Linked DNA regions of Homo sapiens: region 1 is linked to region 2. Evidence: fine-mapped expression QTL. A gene starts in region 2. The other region holds a variant in brackets. All regions are shown on one strand. Distances are from middle to middle.

What was found. PIP is the estimated chance that this variant, and not a neighbour inherited with it, causes the effect.
Region 1: its variant is fine-mapped to the expression of TLE6 in cerebellum (GTEx, PIP above 0.99).

What each region holds. Positions count from the first base shown.
Region 1 is chr19:2,992,946-3,002,633 of GRCh38, forward strand. TLE6 (TLE family member 6, subcortical maternal complex member) reads left to right here. Exons shown (of 17, transcript NM_001143986.2): 15 at 487-637; 16 at 1,074-1,150; 17 at 1,955-2,234. The coding sequence ends at 2,059. It overlaps TLE2 (TLE family member 2, transcriptional corepressor), which reads right to left. Exons shown (of 20, transcript NM_003260.5): 18 at 9,408-9,558; 19 at 7,702-7,778; 20 at 4,699-5,010. The coding sequence ends at 4,903. Among named protein-coding and RNA genes, the nearest start is that of TLE6, 20 kb to the left of the region's middle. The variant G/A (reference allele first, on the strand shown) is at 4,954.
Region 2 is chr19:2,972,852-2,982,539 of GRCh38, forward strand. It overlaps TLE6 (TLE family member 6, subcortical maternal complex member), which reads left to right and starts at 4,713. Exons shown (of 17, transcript NM_001143986.2): 1 at 4,713-4,759; 2 at 5,347-5,433; 3 at 7,249-7,331; 4 at 8,687-8,732; 5 at 9,297-9,338. The coding sequence starts at 5,383. RefSeq lists a silencer at 4,435-4,744 and an enhancer at 9,607-9,688.

The sequences.
Region 1 (9,688 bases), 20 kb after region 2:
TGGGAGGCCAAGGCGGGTGGATCATTTGAGGTCAGAAGTTCAAGAACAGCCTGACCAACATGGTGAAACCCCGTCTCTACTAAAAAAAAAAAAAAAAAAAAAAAAAAACAGAATAATTAGCCAGGCATGGTGGCGCATGCCTGTAGTCCCAGCTACTCAAGAGGCTGAGGCGGGAGAATCGCTTAAACCCCAGGAGGCAGACGTTGTCGTAAGCCGAGATCGTACCATTGTACTCCAGCCCGGCAACAGAGCGAGACTCCGTCTCAAAATAAACACTCATGCTGTATCAGGTGCAAAGTAGGGAAGACTCTCCATTTTACACACCAACAAACTGAGGCACAGATACGAAGTTGCTTGTCCCAGGGCTGCACAGCTAGGAAGGGGTCAGTCACCCGGCCTCCAGGATAGGTCCCCAGGCTCCTGCCTGCTTCCTGGGCCAGGCTGGGACCTAACCAGGTTCCTCCCTCCCCACTGCCCATTACCTAGATAATGAGCCTGTCCCACAGCCCCCAGGAGGACTGGGTGCTGCTGGGCATGGCCAATGGCCAGCAGTGGCTGCAAAGCACCAGCGGGAGCCAGCGGCACATGGTGGGGCAAAAAGACAGCGTCATCCTGAGCGTCAAGTTCTCCCCCTTTGGTAAGCGGCTGGCGGAAGATGAGGGGACTCCCCTGCAGCCCCCAGCCTCCCACAAGACCCCACCTAATGCCAGCTCCCCACCCAACCCTCTAGGACACCTCAGAACCCTTCTGTAGCAGAAACCAATTTTGGGGATGCTCTTATAGTGGAATGAGGGAGGGAAGGGGGTGGGTGCCTGGGCCCTTCCTCCCCACCCGCCCCACCGGCGCGGTCCGCCTCCGCCCTTCCCCCTTCAGCCACTGGTGTCCCCATGAGCCCGGGGAGGCTGAGGCCACAGTGAACTGTGATCATACCACTGACTGTAGTCCAGCCTGGGTGACAGAGTGAGACCCTGTCTCAAAAAAAAAAAAAAAAAAAAAAGGTGGGTGGGGAGGATGAACTCTGGGAAGGAAAAAGGTAGTGGTTCTAAGTCTCGCTGATGCTCCATTTCTCCCAGGCCAGTGGTGGGCAAGCGTTGGAATGGACGACTTCCTTGGCGTCTACAGCATGCCGGCGGGGACAAAAGTGTTCGAGGTACTGCGGTGGGCTGGGGGCAGGACCCGGGGGTGGCCCCAAAGGGACCAGCCTGGGCAACACAGCAAGACCCTGTCTCCACAAAAAACTTAAAAAGTAGCCAGGTGTGGTGGCTCACGGCTTTAATCCCAGCATTTTGGGAGGCTGAGGCAGGAAGATCTCTTAAGTGTAGGAGTTCGAGACCAGCCTGGCCAACATAGTGAGACCCCATCTCTACAAAAAATAATTAGCTGAGCCGGGTGCGGTGGCTCACGCCTGTAATCCCAGCACTTTGGGAGGCCGAGACGGGCAGATCATGAGGTCAGGAGATCAAGACCATCCTGGCTAACACGGTGAATCCCTGTCTCTACTAAAAATACAAAAAATTAGTTGGGCGTGGTGGTGGGCGCCTGTAGTCCCAGCTACTTGGGAGGCTGAGGCAGGAGAATGGCGTGAGCCAGGGAGGCGGAGCTTGCAGTGAGCCAAGATTGTGCCACTGCACTCCAGCCTGGGTGACAGAGACTCCATCTAAAAAAATAATAATAATAATTAAAAACACTTTTAAAATTAAAAATAATAATTAGCTGAGTGTGGTGGTGCACACCTGCGGTCCCAGCTACTTGGGAGGCTGAGGCAGGAAGATTGTGTGAGTCCAGGAGGTCGAGGCTGCAGCAAGCTGAGATTGCACCACTGCACTCCAGCCTGGGCAACAGAGCAAGACCCTGTCTTTCTTTGAAGAGACGATGCTTCATGCTTGAGCTGACAGGTGGAGACCAGGGGTGTGTGAGCCCTACCCCAGCTCACTGCCCACTGCCCCCCCTCCAGGTGCCTGAGATGTCTCCAGTCACGTGCTGTGACGTCTCTTCCAACAACCGCCTCGTTGTCACAGGCTCCGGGGAGCACGCCTCCGTGTACCAGATCACCTACTGAGGGGCCTCGCTGCTGTCATCCCACTCCGGCTCCTCTTTTCATCCCCCCCCTTCCCCCCCCCCAACAAGGGGGACATGGTGGAGGGAAGCGGGAAGGCTCTTCTGTGGCATCGCACGATCTAGTCTGTGGTGTAGACTGGTCGCCATCACGTGTAATAAAGCACCCGGGAAAGGCAGAGTGTGGACGCGTCCTGTCCTCTGAAGGGAAAGGGGCCTTCCCATCCCGTCCCTGCTCAACTTGTGGAAATCTGGAAGGACTTCGTCCAGCCTGGTGGCTCTAAGCCTTTTTTTTTTTTTTTTTTTTTTTTTCTGAGGCAGGGTCTCACTTTGTTATGCAGGCTGGAGTGCAGTGGTGCCATCACGACTCCCTGCAGCCTCTCCAACTCCTGGGCTCAAGCCATCCTCCTGCCTCAGCCTCTTGAGTAGTTGAGACTACATATATGTACCACCGTGCTCGGCTAGTTTAATTTTTTTGTAGATGCTGGGTGTGGTGGCTCACACCTGTAATTCCAGCACTTTGAGGTCGGGGGTTTGAGACTAACACAGTGAAACCCCATCTCTACTAAAAATACAAAAATTAGCTGGGCATGGTGGCACGTGCCTGTAATCCCAGCTACTAAGGAGGCAGAGGCAGGAGAATCTCTTGAACCCGGGAGGTAGAGGTTGCAGTGAGCCAAGATCGTGCCACTGTACTCCAACCTGGCAACGGAGCGAGACTCTGTCTCAAATTAATAGAAATAACAAAATTTTGTGTAGACACAGGGTCTTGCTCTGTTGCCCAGGCTGGTCTCAAATTCCTGATTTTATGTGATTCTCCCACCTCGGCCTCCCAAAGTGCTGGGATTACAGGCGTGAGCCACTGTGCCTGGTCTCAAACTCCTGATTTAAGCGATCCTCCTACCTTGGCCTCCCAAAGTGCTGGGATTACAGGCATGAGCCACCGTGCCCAGCCCTCTGAGCCGTTTCCGTCCTCGTTCTCTGGGAATCTAGTCACAGCCACAGACTTTGCTGTTGGGGTAGCAGATCTCCACCTCCGCCGCCCGGAGCAGCTCCAATCTGGTCCGATGTTTCTGGTGTGATTCCAGGAGCAGTGTGAGTGGTCCTGTCCTAGACATGTCCCATTTGACCAGTAGTCTCCAGTAGGGTGATTCTGCCCCCCGGGGACTCTAGGCGATGTCTGGAGGCATTTCTGGTTGTCACGACTTGTGGGGTCCCCCTGGCATGGAGTGGGTGGGGGCAGGGACATTACTCACCATTCTGTGGTGCCCAAGACGGCCCCACCCCAGAGGATGGTCCAGTCCCGAGGTCCACAGTGCTAAGGTCGAAACAAATTTCCAATAGCTTCACTGGTCGGCCTTCTTCCCACACAAGCTAGGGCTCTGGAAACGCCACTTGCCCACCCTCCCTTTTCCAAGCTATGAAGGGGCCCAGATGTCAACGGGCCTAGGCTCCTTAACCCAGAGAATTATCCCCTTTCCTGCGGTGTCTCCAGAAACATCCACCAGGGCGTGCCTTCTGTTCTCAGCAGGAACCCTCCCATCTCCTTCTAGAATGTTCCCAGCGGCATCTACTCCGCCCAACCTATGCTGCCTTAAATTTTTTTTCTAGAGATGGAGTCCCACTATTGCCCAGGCTGGTCTCAAACTCCTGGGCTCAAGCAATCCTGCCGCCTCAGCCTCCCAAAGTGTTCAGATGACAGGTGTGAGCCCCAGCACCGGTCCTAACCCTTGCTGTACGTGGTAGCCCACCTGAGCTTCCAGAACACGGGGCTGATTGCCCCCCACTCTCCCCGCTCCCCACTGAAGCCTTGTCTGCAGGCCTCGTTCTCCAGAACCTGGCTGTCTTCTGGGTAACCACCAGGCCGAGTTCCCCTTGCCTCTGAGATATCGCATCCGCCATTCTCCTCTTTCCAGAACAGTCTTCTCAGGGCTCTGGGGGCTGTTTCTCATCCCTTAGTGCTCAGTGTACCCCTCCCCTCCACTGGGCAGGGACGTTTGCTCAGCCCTTTGCCATGCGCAGGGCTCTTAGAAATCCTTGGAATCTAGCCAGGTGCAGTGGCTCACGCCTGTAATCCCAGCACTTTGGGAGGCCGAGGTGGGTGGATCACCTGAGGTTAGGAGTTTGGGACCAGCCTAGTCAACATGGAGAAACATTGTCTCTACTAAAAATACAAAAATTAGCTGGGTGTGGTGGTGTTCCTGTAATCCCAGCTACTCGGGAGGCTGAGGGAGAAGAATTGCTTAAGCCCAGGAGGCAGAGGTTGCAGTGAGCTGAGATCGTACCACTGTACTCTCCAGCCTGGGAGACAGAGTGCGACTGTCTCAAAAAAATTTCTACCCGGAGGCCTGAGTGACTACCTGGAGTAGAGCCCCGTACACCATGTGGGTATGAGCAAGGAAAAAATGCATGAACCCTGAGACTCGGGGACTACTTGTTACGCAACAGCATCTTAACGATCCTGCCCAGCGCAACTCCTGTGTCTCAGAGTGGCTCTCACATACCAGGCAGACACCTCTGAATATCCTGCAGAAAGAATTCTCGTTACGTATGACCCCATCCCCAGGACATGGTTGCCTCCCAGTAACCGTGCCCAAGAGGAACAATGATCACCGGTTCCCCAGCCCGAGAGAGAAGTGCGGATGTGATAGATACATTTTATTTCCACCGAGGTCCCCTGCCCATCGGCCCCCACATGCAGCAGGGGAAGGTGTGAAGCCGTTGGCCAGAGAGCAGATGGGATGTACGGTTCCTAGGCAGGGCTGGGAGGCGGCTGCTAGGATGTCTGTCCTGGCTGCTGATTCCCCTGGGAGTCTGGACTTCGGGTACAGGAAGGGGGGTCATGTCTCAGTAGACCACCTCATACACGGTGGCCTTCTTGTCCCCCGAGCCTGTCAC[G/A]ATGTATTTGTTATTTCTGGAGATGTCACAACTCAGGACTGAGGACGACTCCTTGGACTGCCAAGGGAAGGGAGAGAGAAAAGGGCACAGTGAGGCATGGTCCCCACAGATGGGTGTGTGGGCAAGGCTGGGGCGGAGTCAGGAACGGGAGGTCAGGACTCGCCTACAGAGTGACGTGTTTCTTTTTTTGAGATGGAGTTTTGTTCTTGTCGCCCAGGCTGAAGTGCAGTGGTGCGATCTTGGCTCACTGCAACCTCCACCTCCCGGGTTCAAGACACTCTCCTGCCTCAGCCTCCCAAATAGCTGGGATTATAGGCGCCCGCAACCACGCCCGGCCAATGTGTGTGTGTGTGTGTGTGTGTGTGTGTGTGTGTGTGTAATTTTTTTTTTTTTTTGTGAGACAGGGTCTAACTCTGTTGCCCAGGCTAGAGTGCAATGGTGTGATCTCTGCTCACTGCAACCTCCGCCTCCCAGGTTCAGGCAATCCTCCTGTCTCGAACTCCCAAGCAGCTGGGATTGCAGGTGCATGCCACCATGCCTGGCTAATTTTTGTATTTTTAGAAGAGGCAGGGTTTCACCATGTTGGCCAGGTTGGGCTTGAACTCCTGACCTCAGGTGATCCGCCTGCCTTGGTCTCCCAAAGTGTTGAGATTACACGCATGAGCCACCGCACCCGGCCTAATTTTTGTATTTTTAGTAGAGACTGGGTTTCCCCATGTTGGCCAGGCTAGTCTCAAACTCCTGACCTCAGGCGATCCACCGCCTAGGCCTCCCAAAGTGCTGGGATTACAAGCGTGAGCCACCGCGCCCGGCAGAGCGACTTGTTTTCTACAGACAGGTGCTTTGGAGCTAAGTCCAATGGGCAGAACAGGGCCTCCATTCCCTCAATACCAAGAGAGATGGAACTGAAGTGCTGCCCTTTCTGGAAGCTCAGAGTGGGTGTGCACCAGGCATGATGTCACACAGCACAGCAGAGGGCCAAGGCAATGGCTTAGACCAGGGATCAGCAAACTTCACAAAGGGCCTGGTAAACATTTTAGGCTTTGCCTAAAGTCTAAATAAGTCCATGTCACATATTCTGGGATTTTTTTCTTACAACCCTTTGAAAATATAAAGGGTTGGCACGGTGGCTCGGCGCTTCCGGAGGCCGAGGCAGGTGGATCACCTGAGGTCAGGAGTTCCAGACCAGACTGGCCAACGTGGGGAATCCCCGTCTCTACTAAAAATACAAAACTTAGCCAGGCATGGTGGCGGGCACATGTAATGCCAGTTACTTGGGAAGCTGTGGGAGGAGAATCGCTTTAACTCAGGAGGTGGAGGCTGCAGTGAGCTGAGATTGCGCCACTGCACTCCAGGCTGGGCGACAGAGAAGGACTCCGTGTCAAAAAAACAAAAAAACACTGTACCAACCAGGACGGGCATATTAAAAACACTGTACCAACCAGGACGGGCATATTAAAAAGACAGCCAATAACAAGTGTTGGTGAGGATGCAGAGAATTTTAAAATTTCAATCACTGCTGATGGGGATATAAAATTTGAAAAACAGGCTGGGTGTGGTGGCTCACACCTGTAATCCCAGCACTTTGGGAGGCCAAGGCGGGTGGATCATGAGGTCAGGAGATCAAGACCATCCTGGCTAACACGGTGAAACCCCGTCTCTACTAAAAATACAAAAAATTAGCCAGGTGTGGTGGCGGGTACCTGGAGTCCCAGCTACTCGGGAGGCTGAGGCAGGAGAATGGTGTGAACCCAGGAGGCAGAGCTTGCAGTAAGCAGAGATAGTGCCGCTGCACTCCAGCCTGGGTGACAGAGTGAGACTCCATCTCAAAAAAAAAAAAAGAAAGAAAAACAGCTGGGCGCAGTGGCTCACGCCTGTAATCCCAACACTTTGGGAGGCCAAGGTAGGCAGATCACCTGAGGTCAGGAGTTTGAGACCAGCCTAGACAACATGGTGAAACCCCCTCTCTACTGAAAATACAAAAATTAGCCAGGCGTGGTGGTACATGCCTGTAATCCCAGCTACTCGGGAGGCTGTGGCAGGAGAATCGATTGAACCCGGGAGGTGGAGCTTGCAGTGAGCCGAGATCGCAACACTGCACTCCAGCCTGGGAGACAGAGCAAGATTCTGTCTCCAAAAAAAAAGAAGAAATGAGTAAGATGGCAAATTTTATTTTTATTTATTTATTTTTGAGGCAGAGCCTCACTCTGTCGCCCAGGCTGGAGTGCAGTGGTGCGATCTCAGCTCACTGCAAGCTCCACCTCCTGGGTTCATGCCATTCTCCTGCCTCAGCCTCTCGAGTAGCTGGGACTACAGGCGCCCACCACCACGCCTGGCTAATTTTTTTGTATTTTTTTTAGTAGAGACGGGTTTTCACCATATTAGCCAGGGTGGTCTCGATCTCCTGACCTCGTGATCCGCCTGCCTCAGCCTCCCAAAGTGCTGGGATTACAGGCATGAGCGACCGTGCCCGGCTGGCAAATTTTAAATTTTATAATATTATATGCATGTTACTGCAACTAAATTTTAGAAAAACCAACAGGCTACGGGCAGATGAGGCGAGGCCTCCGGCTGAAATTCCAACCTCTGCTTTAGTACCTGGGCGGTAGGGAGGCTTGCAGGACCCTGAGGAGGGGTTAGGGTGGCGGGGGGACCTGGGGGACAGGGACAGGGGCAATCTCTCTGTCTGACCCTGGCATACCCGGGCACATGGCCCTGCCAGAGTGGGGGCTCCAGACCGCCGAGTACCTGGAAAATGCTGGCCCCGTACGGCGTCCTCCAGGCGTTGAGCAGGTTGTCCTTCCCGGTGCTCACAAACCACCGTCCTTGGGGAAGGAGAGCAGCAGGGTTCAAGGAGGGGGCACTAACGAGAGACCCGGGCTGCAGGGGGAGGTCGGGGAAGCTGGGTCTGGGTCTGGCCTCTCCCTTTTTTTTTTTTTTTTTCCAAGAAAGGGTCTTGCTCTGTCACCCAGGCTGGAGTGCAGTGGTACAATCATAGCTCACTGCAGCCTCCACCACCTGGACTCAAGCGCTCCTCCCAAGCAGCTGGGACCACAGGTGTGCACCACCACGCCCAGCTAATATTTTTATTTTTTGCCGGGGGCAGTGGCTAACACCCGTAATCCCCACTTTGGGAGACAGAGGTGGCTGGGTCACTTGAGGTCAGGAGTTTGAGACCATCCTGGCCAACATGGTGAAACCCCTTCTCTACTAAAAATACAAAAATCAGCTGGGCATTGTGGCAGGCACCTGTAACTCCAGCTACTTGGGAGGCTGAGGCTTGAGAATCGCTTGAACCCAGGACGCAGAGGTTGCAGTGAGCTGAGATTGCGCCACTGCACTCCAGCCTGGGTAACGCAGTCAGACTCTGTCTCAAAAAAAAAAAAAAATATTTTTTGTAGAGTTGGGATCTCACTATGCTGCCCAGACTGGTCTCAAACTCCTGGCCTCAAGCGATCCTCCCACCGTGGTCTACCAAAGTGCTGGGATTACAGGTGTGAGCCACTGTGCCCAGCCCAAGTTTTGTTTGTTTGTTTGTTTGGTATAAGATATCCCATGTACTATTTAGGATATACTTACACTAATGAATGATTTTTTTTTAAAAAGAGATAGGGTCTCACTGTATTGCCCAGGCTGGAGGGCAGTGATGTCATCATAGCTCCCTACAGCCTCAAAGTCCTGGGCTCAAGCAATCCTCCTGCCTCAGCCTCCCTCGTACCTGGCACTACAGGTGCGACCTACTGGCTGTTTAATTTTTTTGTAGAGAAAGTCTTGCTATGTTGCCCAGGCTGGTCTTGAACTCCTGGTCTTGGGCGATCCTTCTGCCTTAGCCTCCCAAGTAGCTGAAACTACACACATCAGCTACTGTGCCTGGCTTAAATTTCTTTTCTTTCTTTTTTTTTTTTTTTTTTTTTTTAAGATAGAATCTCACTCTTGTCTCCCAGGCTGGAATGCAGTGGCATGATCTTGGCTCACTGCGACCTCCACCTCCCGGGTTCAGGCAATTCTCCTGCCTCAACCTCCCAAGTAGCTGGGATTACAGGCGCCCACCACCACGCCTGGCTAATTTTTGTACTTTTAATAGAGTCAGGGTTTCACCATGTTGGCCAGGCTTGTCTCGAACTCCTGACCTCAGGTGATCTGCCTGCCTTGGCCTCCCAAAGTGTTGGGATGACAGGCGTGAGCTACCACACCCAGCCTTAAATTTGAATCTCAGATAAGTCATCAGTAATTTTTAGGACAGGTATATCCCAAATACTTCATTATTTGGTTTTTAGTATAAGTATATCCCACACACCATTTGGGATATACTTGTACTAACGATTTGCTTTTGAGTATATAAAACTTAGTATATAAATAACATTATTTGTTATTTATCTAAGATTCAGATTGAATAGGCACCCTGGGTTTTGTTGGGGTTTTGAGGGCGTGCCACCCCGCCCCAGAAGACACACCGCAGGAGGCAAACTTCAGGGACAGCACGCAGCTCTCGTGGAGGTGCAGCTGGTATTTCTCCGGCTTGCGGACGTGCAGGATCTCCACGTTGCTACTCTCCATTCCGACCGCCAGCCAGTCCTGGTTAGGGCAGTGGCCCAGGGAGAAAATCTGGGGGTAAAGAGGGAAGAGATGGGGTCACGAGCCCCTCTTTGTTTTGTGTTGAGACAGGGTCTCACTCCGTCACCCAGGCTGGAGTGCAGTGGCACAATCATGGCTCACTGCAGCCTTGACCTCCAGG
Region 2 (9,688 bases):
CTGCTTGAGCCCAGGAGGTTGGGACTGCAGGGAGCCAAGATTGTGCCACCGCACTCCAGCCTGAGCAAGAGTGAGATCCTGTCTCAAAAAAAAAAAAAAAAAAAAAGGCTCAGGCCTGTAATCTCAACACTTTGGGAGAACGAGGTGGGGGTGGATCCCCTGAAGTCAGGAGTTCGAGACCAGCCTGGCCAACATGATGAAACCCTGTCTCTACTAAAAATACAAAAATTAGCCGAGTGTGGTGGCACGTGCCTGTAATACCAGCCACTCAGGAGGCTGAGGCAGAAGAATCGCTTGAACCCGGGAGGTGGAGGTTGCAGTGAGCTGAGGTTGCACCATTGCACTCCTGCCTGAGCAACAGAGTGAGACCCCTTCTCAAAAAAAAAAAAGAGTAGAAATGGAATGACTACTGAAAATGTGCTTCCGATTTCTACATGGACCCTGGAGGAATTTCTCTTTCCTAGGAGCCTCCAATCAGTGCTGTCCACTGGGACTTTCTGTGATGACAGAATGTTCTAGATCTTCGCTGTCCAGTACGGTGACCCCCAGACGCCAGTGACGACTGAGCGCCTGACATGCGGGCAGGGTGCCTGAGGAATGGAATTTTAAATTGTATTTCATTTTAATTAATTTTAACTTAAATAGCCACATGTGCTTACTGGATACCCTGTGAGACAACCCTGTGAGTCTTGGATAAAGCAACGTGCCCAGCTGAAAGTCTACAATCAGAGGGAGGGGAAAAAGCAAAGCCCATATTAGGAGGCTGGACCATAAATAAAACACACTTTAATTATGCAGCTGGGTGCAGTGGCTCACGCCTGTAATCCCAGCACTTTAGGAGGCCGAGATGAGTGGATCACTTGAGGTCAGGAGTTTGAGACCATCCTGGCCAACATGGTGAAACTCCATCTCTACTAAAAATACAACATTAGCTGGAGGTGGTGTGGTGGCGGGCGCCTGTCATCCAAGCTACTCAGGAGGCTGAGGTAGAAGAATCGCTTGAACCCAGGAGGCAAAGGTTGCAGTGAGCCAAGATCGTGCCACTGCACTCCAGCCTGGGCGACAGAGCAAGACTCTGTCACAAAAAAATAATAATAATAGCCAGGCGTGGTGGCTCACACCTGTAATCCCAGCACTTTGGGAGACCAAGGCAGGTGGATCACAAGATCAGGAGTTTGAGACCGATCCGGCCAATATGGTGAAACTCCATCTCTATTAAAAATACAAAAATTAGGCGGGTGTGGTGGCGGGCGCCTGTAGTCCCAGCTACTTGGGAGGCTGAGGCAGGAGAATCGCTTGAACCTGGGAGGTGGAGGATGCAGTGAGACAAGATCGCGCCACTGCACTCCAGCCTGAGGGACAGAGAGAGACTCTGTCTCAAAAAAATAAGTAATAAAAATTAAAAAATAATAATTATGGGACAGTGGAGGGTTCGTGGGTGGGAAGCTTTTCTGCAGGTCTTTCATGACGGCCCCTCCCTTTGTTCTCCATGGACCAGCTGCAAAACCCAAGTCACGTGTGCACATCACCACCTCTGGGGGCTACTTGTCCCAGCATTGAAACCCTCAGTTCCCCGCAGCGAGAGAGCACAGAACAGAAAACAGGGAAGAGTTTCTCTGGCTGGGTTTGGATCTGAAGTCAGCAGACCTATCGGGCATTTGTGTCACATGGGGAGGTCAGAGGATGGGAGGCGTCTCTGTAGGAGAATCCTGACAGCATTCTCTGCATTTAGAACATGCAGGGCTTAGAGCTATCGTGGGAGGCTCCCGCCACAGGAGCCACTGAGATTACAAGATTAGCTGCAATCCAAACCACATTCGGAAAAAAATAAAATAAGAAAGGGAGATACAGGCCCGGTGGCGGCACAGTGGCTCATGCCTGTAATCCATAGTACTTTGGGAGGTGGAGGTGGGAGGATCACTTGGGGTCAGGAGTTCAAGACCAGCCGGGGCAATGTACTGAGACTCCCCTCCCCCTCGCCCTGTGTTTAAAAAAAAAAAGAGGAAATAAAGGGAAATATAGGGAAGGGAAGGGAGGGTTGGGAGGTCTCTTCAATGAGATCCTTCCTTCCTTCCTTCCTTCCCTCCCTCCCTCCCTTCTTTTTTTTTTTTTGAGATGGAGTTTCACTCTTGTTGCCCAGGCTAGAGTGCAATGGCACGATCCTGGCTGACTGCAACCTCCACCTCCCGGGTTCAAGCGATTCTCCTGCATCAGCCTCCCAAGTAGCTGGGATTACAGGCGTCTGCCACCACACTCAGCTGACCTTTGTATTTTTAGTAGAGATGGGGTTTTGCCATGTTGGCCAGGCTGGTCATGAACTCTTTTCTTCTTTTGAGGCAGAGTACTCTGTCGCCCAGGGTGGAGTGCAATGGCGACATCTTGGCTCATTGCAACCTCTGCCTCCCAGGTTCAAGTAGCTGGGATTACAGATGTGCATCACCGTGCCCGGCTGATTTTTGTATTTTTAGTAGAGGTAGGGTTTCAGCATGTTGGCCAGGCTGGTCTGGAACTCCTGACCTCAAGTGATCTCCTGCTTCGGCCTCTCAAAGTGCTGGAATTACAGGCGTGAGCCACCACGCCTGGCCTGATGTGGTGATTTTTTTTTTTTTTTTCTGAGACAGAGTCTTGCTGTGTCACCCTGGCTGAAGTGCAGTGGCACAATCTCGACTCACTGCAACCTCCGCCTCCCAGGTTCAAGTGATTCTTCTGCCTAAGCCTCCAGAGTAGCTGGGACTACAGGTGCCTATCACCATGCCTGGCTAATTTTTGTATTTTAGTAGAGCTGGGGTTTTCTTTTTTTTTTTTTTTTTTTGAGACAGAGTCTTGTTCTGTCGCCCAGTCTGGAGTGCAGTGGCGCAATCTTGGCTCACTGCAAGCTCCGCCTCCCGGGTTCACGCCATTCTCCCGCCTCAGCCTCCTCAGTAGCTGGGATTACAGGCACCCACCGCCACGCCCGGCTAATTTTTTTGTATTTTTTATTAGAGATGGGGTTTCACCGTGTTAGCCAGGATGGTCTCGATCTCCTGACCTCGTGATCCACCCGCCTCGGCCTCCCAAAGTTCTGGGATTACAGGTGTGACCCGGCCAAGCTGGGGTTTCACCATGTTGGCCAGGCTGGTCTCGAACCCCTGACCTCAGATGATCCACCCACCTCTGCCTCCCAAAGTGCTGGGATTACAGGCGTGCACCACAGCACCTGGCCCAACGTGGTGATTTCTAAGTAGGGAGCTGAGGGAGTAAGGAGCCAGCCGGTGGCTGTCTGAGAGAGACTGTCCCTGGCAGAGTGAACTGCTAATGCCAGTACCAGGTCCTGGGCCAAACAGAAAGAAACGGGCTCTCACTCCAGAACTGCAGCTTGACCACTATATATATAATATATATACTTTATATATATTATAGCTATATATTTTTTTGAGATGGAGTCTTGCTCTGTTGCTCAGACTGGAGTGCAGTGGCACGATCATAGCTCACTCCAGACTCAACCTCCTGGGCTTACGCCATCCTCCTGCCTCAGCCTCCCCAGTAGCTGAGACTACAGGTGCATGACCACCACACTTGGCTAATTTTTAAATTTTTTGTAGAGACGCGGTGTCACTGTGTTGCCCAGGCTGGTCTCCAACTCCTGGCCTCAAGCAATCCTCCCACCTCAGCCTTCCAAAATGCTGGGATCACAGGTGTGAGCCATGGTGACTTGGCTTCATATTTTGAATAGGCCAAAACAAAACTCCGAAATCCCCTTACTCCTATCCCCACGACCCCACACAGCAGGTTTCTCTCGCTCTGCAGCAACCCACTTACCTCTCGGAAATCATCCCAGGCCTGTTCGGAGTGCACGCAGCCCCGTTAGCCTCCCTGGCTGCTCCTGTAACCAGCCCAGCTCTGCCTGAGAGGTTCCGCTATTCCCTCCGTCTGGAATACCCACCACTCTCTCCCACCCCGCGCTTGCATCCGGCAATACTGTATCAGCCTCAGGGCCTCTGCTGTCCCGCTTTCTGCTCTCAGAGCCTTTGTCACTGGGCTGGAAGAGCAGTTGGGAAAATTCGGTGATAAATGCATAGCCCGGGGCTGGGACCATCAAGGGGACCCAGTAAGTTGGCTCCAGAAAGAGGACTTGAAGCTTCGTTTGCATTGCACGTTATTTAATATTGAGGAAAATGTAATTAGCCCGTATCTAAGAATTGGGGTGACAGCGCTAAAGATTGAACCCACCCACCTCCCACTCCTCACCTCCAGCCATAAGCCACTTCCGGACAAGGCTAAAAATGCGTAAAACAATGCAACTACTCGCCACCTATCCCTGCCCAAGTTCCAGCCTCTGAGCCTCAAGCCCCACGCCCTCCTAAATATCCCCGCCCCCGCTGGGACCCCAAATTGCCTATAGCTCTGCAAGTCCGCCCTTCCCGGCAGCGGGACCGAAAGGGTAAAGCAGAGGCTCCCGGCTCGCTGAGTGACAGCATGGCCGGCGGCCGGGGAGAGCCGACCAATCAGGGAGGGCGTACGCGACCCACGTGCGTAAACGGCCTCGCTATTGGCCGGCGCCGCCAGAGGCCTGCCCCCCCCGGAGCCCGAACCCACGTGCAGCTACTGCGCCTTCATTGATCTGCTTCGCGGTCCAGGTGGCGGCTGGGTGGGGCCTGGGCGGGACGGGGCGGGGACAAGGCGGGACGAGGCGGGGCCCGATGGGTCAAATGGCCCCCGGTGGGGGAAGGAGGAGTTTCCTCTTGGCCTGAACTTGGCTGACCTCCGCAGCTTCCGCCCGGTGAGGGACGTGAGTTGCCAGGCGTGTTCTAGGGGGCTGGGGGGACTCCAGGATTCCCGGCCGGGGAAGGGGCTGCAGGGGCGTGGAGGGGCAGGACTGAGGCAAGGAAGAAGCTGGGTGCTGCAGCAGGGATGGAGGTGGAGAGAGGTCGTTTCTTCTGTCTGATGAATTCCGCCTAATGCACCTGGCTAACTCCTAGTCATCCTTCAAAACCCCTTTCTAGTGATCTCCCTGCGCTTTAGGAAATTGTCTCAAAACTAAGGTTGAGCTTTGGCGACCTTCCCTGGGCTCCCCCGTCCCTGACTGCCCCCAGCAGGGAGTGTATGTGCACTATCCACCCCAGCCTCCTAGGGTGAGGCCTGGGAGGCAAGGCTCAGTTCTTTCTGGGTCCCCGCCCCCATGAATCTGGGCAGCTGGAGGCATTGATAAGTGAGGACAGGACCTAGGGAACGCATGGGAGAACCGCAGGATTGGGTCCCTGGAGACTTACCAAACTGGGAGGTGCGGGTGGGGTAACGGGTGCCTTGCTTCCCTGGCACTGCCTTATTTTCTGTCCCTCAAGACCTGCCGTCTCCTTGTTGTTTTAGACTCTGGCTAAAGTCTTGGAGGCTACTGCCTTGAAGATGACCTCTAGGGACCAGCCCAGACCCAAGGGCCCCCCGAAAAGCACTTCGGTGAGGAGGGCATGTGGTGGGATCAGCCCTCAAGGGAAACCCGGGCCCAATGTGGTTCTGCCCCTTTTCCACCTGTGACCTGGGCTGGCCCCGCCCAGGCCTCGCAGCTGAAGACAATACTGGTCGCTGCTACACTCAAGACAGGTGCCAAGGAGCCGTGTTTTTTAAAAAAAATTAAGTGTAGGCTGGACACTGTGGCTCACAACTGTAATCTCAACATTTTTGGAGGCCGAGGCAGGAGGACCACTTGAGCCCAGGAGTTTGAAACCAGCCTGGACAACGTAGTGAGACCCTGTCTCTGTAAAAAATAAAACTAGAAGAATCAGCTGGGCCTAGTGACGTGGGCCTGTAGTTGCAGCTACTTGGGAGGCTGAGGCAGAGGGTTGGCTTGAGCCCAAGGAGTTTGAGGCTGCAGTGAACTATGATGGTGCCACTGCACTCCATCCTTGGTGACAGTGAGATCCCATCTAAAAAAAAATGTAGCATCTAATCACATATGTGATAAAAACACAGGAACACATCATGTATTTGGTTGATGTTTTACAAGCAATCCCCGCTCCCTGCACTTTGCGTCCCAGAGATGACCATTTGTAAATTTAGGCTCTCAGGGCTGAGCAGACGTTTTTTTTTGTAAAGGAGTCAGATGAGGGATATTTTGTTTTGAGACTTTATGATTTTATTATGTTTGAGACGGAGTCTCACACTCACCTCGGCTGGAATGCAATGGCGCAATCTCAGCTCACTGCAACCTCTGCCTCCCGGGTTCAAGTGATTCTCCTGCCTCGCCTCCCGAGTAGCTGGGACTACAAGCACCTGCCACCATGACCACCAAATTTTTCTTGTATTTTTAGTAGAGACTGGGTTTCACCATGTTGGCCAGGCTGGTCTCGAGCTCCTGACCTCGTGATCTGCCTGCCTCAGCCTCCCAAAGTGCTGGGGTTATAGGTGTGAGCCACCACACTTGGCCAAGAGACTTTATTTTATTGAGTCTTGCTCTTGTTGCCCAGGCTGGAGTGCAGTGGCGCGATCTCGGCTCACTGCAACCTCCACCTCCCAGGTTCAAGTGATTCTCCTGCCTCAGCCTCCCGAGTAGCTGGGATTACAGGTGCGCGCCACCACGCCCGGCTAATTTTTGTATTTTCAGTAGAGACGGGGTTTTGCTGAGTTGCCCAGGGTTGTCTCAAACTCCTGACCTCAGGTGTTCTGCTCACCTCGGCCTCCCAAAGTGCTGGGATTACAGGCATGAGCCACCTTGCCCGGACTTTTATTTTTAAAAATATTTTGTGCTTCTATTTTCATCACAAGAATGTGGTGAACATTTTAGACTTTAGGCCAAAGTGCAAAATGGAAGATGCTCTTTACTGAAATAAGAGAGGCCGGGCGCGGTGGTTCATGCCTGTCATTCCAGCACTTTAGGAGGCCGAGGCGGGTAGATCATGAGGTCAGGAGGTTGAGACCAGCCTGGCCAAGATGGTGAAACCCCATCTCTACTAAAAATACAAAAATAAGCCAGGTGTGTTGCCGGGGGCGGGCGGGGGAGGGGGGCGCGGGCGCATGTAATCCCAGCTACTCGGGAGGCTGAGGCAGGAGAATCGCTTGAACCCGGGAGGCAGAGTTTGCAGTGAGCTGAGATTGTGCCACTGCACTCCAGCCTGGGCGACAGAGCAAGACTCGGTTTCCAAAAAAAAAAAAAAAAGCAAAAACCACAATTACTTTTGCACCAACCTAATGCCTATGCCATGTTGAGGTGGAGACCGGGGGTCTTGGGTGTTGGAGCATTGTAAGTTTTATGTAACCTTGCTTTGACCTTTCCAGCCTTGTCCTGGGATCTCGAACTCTGAGAGCTCTCCGACGCTGAATTATCAGGGCATTCTAAATCGGCTCAAGCAGTTCCCCAGGTGAGAGCAATTCCAGGGGCCGGAGGTCTCACGCTGGGAAGGAGCCCCACCTGGCCTCTCTCCCGGGGGTCCTAGTGAGTGGTCTAGAGGCTGCTGGCCCAAGAGCCAGGCTCAGGAACAGGAAGCCATGCAGATACCCAGCATGGAGAACCCGGCAATACCCATCCCAGCTTTTGATTAAACAAAATTACCAACAAATATTAAAATTTTGATTTTCCTGTTCGACATGGATTTGTTGGCATTCAATTTTATTGTTGAAAAATACTGCAACGGCTGGGTATGGTGGCTCGCACCTGTAATCCCAGCACTTTGGGAGGCGGAGGCGGGCGGATTGCTTGAGGTCAGGAGATCAAGATCAGCCTGGCCAACATGGTGAAACCGCGTCTCTACAAAAAATACAAAAATCAGCCAGGCTTGGTGGTGGGTGCCTGTAATCCCAACTACTTGGGAAACTGAGGCAGGAGAATCTCTTGAACCCAGGAGGCGGAGGGTTGCAGTGAGCCAGGATCACACCATTACACTCAAGCCTAAGGCTACAGAGTGAGACTCGGTCTTTAAAAAAAAAAAAAAAAAAAAGTACTGCATGGGCTGGGTGCAGTGGCTTGCACTTGTAATCCCAGCACTTTGGGAGGCAGAGGCAGGAAGATCGCTTGAGCCCGGAGTTCAATACCAGCCTTGGCAACATAGCGAGATGCCATCTCTTAAAAAATAAAAAAAATCTAGCTGAGTGTGGTGGTGCACACCTGTAGTCCCAGCTACTCAGGAGACTGAGGCAGGAGGATCATCTGAGCCCAGGAATTGGAGGCTGCAGTGAGCCATGATTGTACCACTGCACCCTAGCCCGGGCAACAGGGTGAGATTCTGTTTAAAAAAAAAAAAATTGAAGAAAGTGGCGGGGCGCGGTGGCTCAAGCCTGTTGTAATCCCAGCACTTTGGGAGGCCGAGGTGGGCGGATCACCTGGAGTCAGGGGTTTGACACCAGCCTGGCCACCATGGTGAAACACTGTTTCTATTAAAAATACAAAAAAATAGCTGGGTGTGGTGGCAGGTGTCTGTAATCCCAGCTACTCGGGAGGTCGAGGCAGGAGGATCTCTTGAACCCAGGAGGCGGAGGTTGCAGTGACACTGCACTCCAGCCTGGGTGACAAGAGTGAGACTCTGTCTCAAAAAAAAAAAAAAAAGAATATACTGCATTAAAATCTTACTGAACTTCTTGACACTGCCTTAAATTTGGCTTCTGGAGCCAGTGCCTTCCAGCTTCATTGAGACCCTCCCTAGGGGTTGAGGGTGGGGCTCACTCTGGGGAGGGAGTCCTGAAGCCACAGGTCTTCCAGCCTGTCCTCCTTCCCCCTCAGGTTTTCTCCTCATTTTGCTGCGGAGTTGGAGAGCATTTACTACTCGGTGAGCCAGACCCAGGCAGCCCCAACCAAGGAGGGCCCCACTGGGACAAGCTGAGGCCCTGGTTTCCCGGCCCTGCCTCCTGAGTGCCCTAGAGAGGTTCTTTTCCGCCAAGCACTGTGCCTCACGCCTGTAATCCCAGCACTATGGGAGGGCGAGGCAGGTGGATCACCTGAGGTCAGGAGTTGGAGACCAGCCTGGCCAACATAGTAGAGACCCTGTCTCTACTAAAAATACAAAAATTAGCCGGGCATGGTGGCAGGTGCCTGTACTCCCAGCTACTCGGGAGGCTGAGGCAGGAGAATCGCTTGAGCCCAGGAGGCAGAGGTTGCGGTGAACTGAGATCACACTGTACTGCAGCCCAGGTAACAGAGCAAGACTCTCTCTGAGGAAAAAAAAGGTAGGGACCATACATCAGTGTAGTAAGAAAGTAAAAGAGAAAACAAGGTGAAAACAAAAATTTAAGGTGGGGGAGTAGGGGCCAGAGAGGTAGAGCAGCTTGCCCAGGGTCACACAGCATTCACACCCGGACCACCTCCCGATGGGATCTCTGTTTTCCCTTTGCAGCTGCACAAGATCCAGCAGGATGTGGCAGAACATCACAAGCAGGTGGGTGACCAGGAGCTCAGGGGTGCGGCTGTCCCTCCATGAAAGGCATGAGAAAGCACAGAGGGGGGCCGGGCACAGTGGCTCAAACCTGTAATCCCAGCACTTTGGGAGGCCGAGGAGGGTGGATCACTTGAGGTCAGGAGTTCGAGACCAGCCTGATCAACATGGTGAAACCCCGTCTCTACTAAAAATAAAAAAATTAGCCAGGCGTGGTGGCGGGCGCCTGTAGTCCCAGCTACTTGGGAGGCTGAGGCAGGAGAATTGCTTGAACCCGGGAGGTGGAGATTGCAGTGAGGCAAGATCGTGGAACTGCACTCCAGCCTGGGCGACAGCGAGACTCTGTCTCAAAA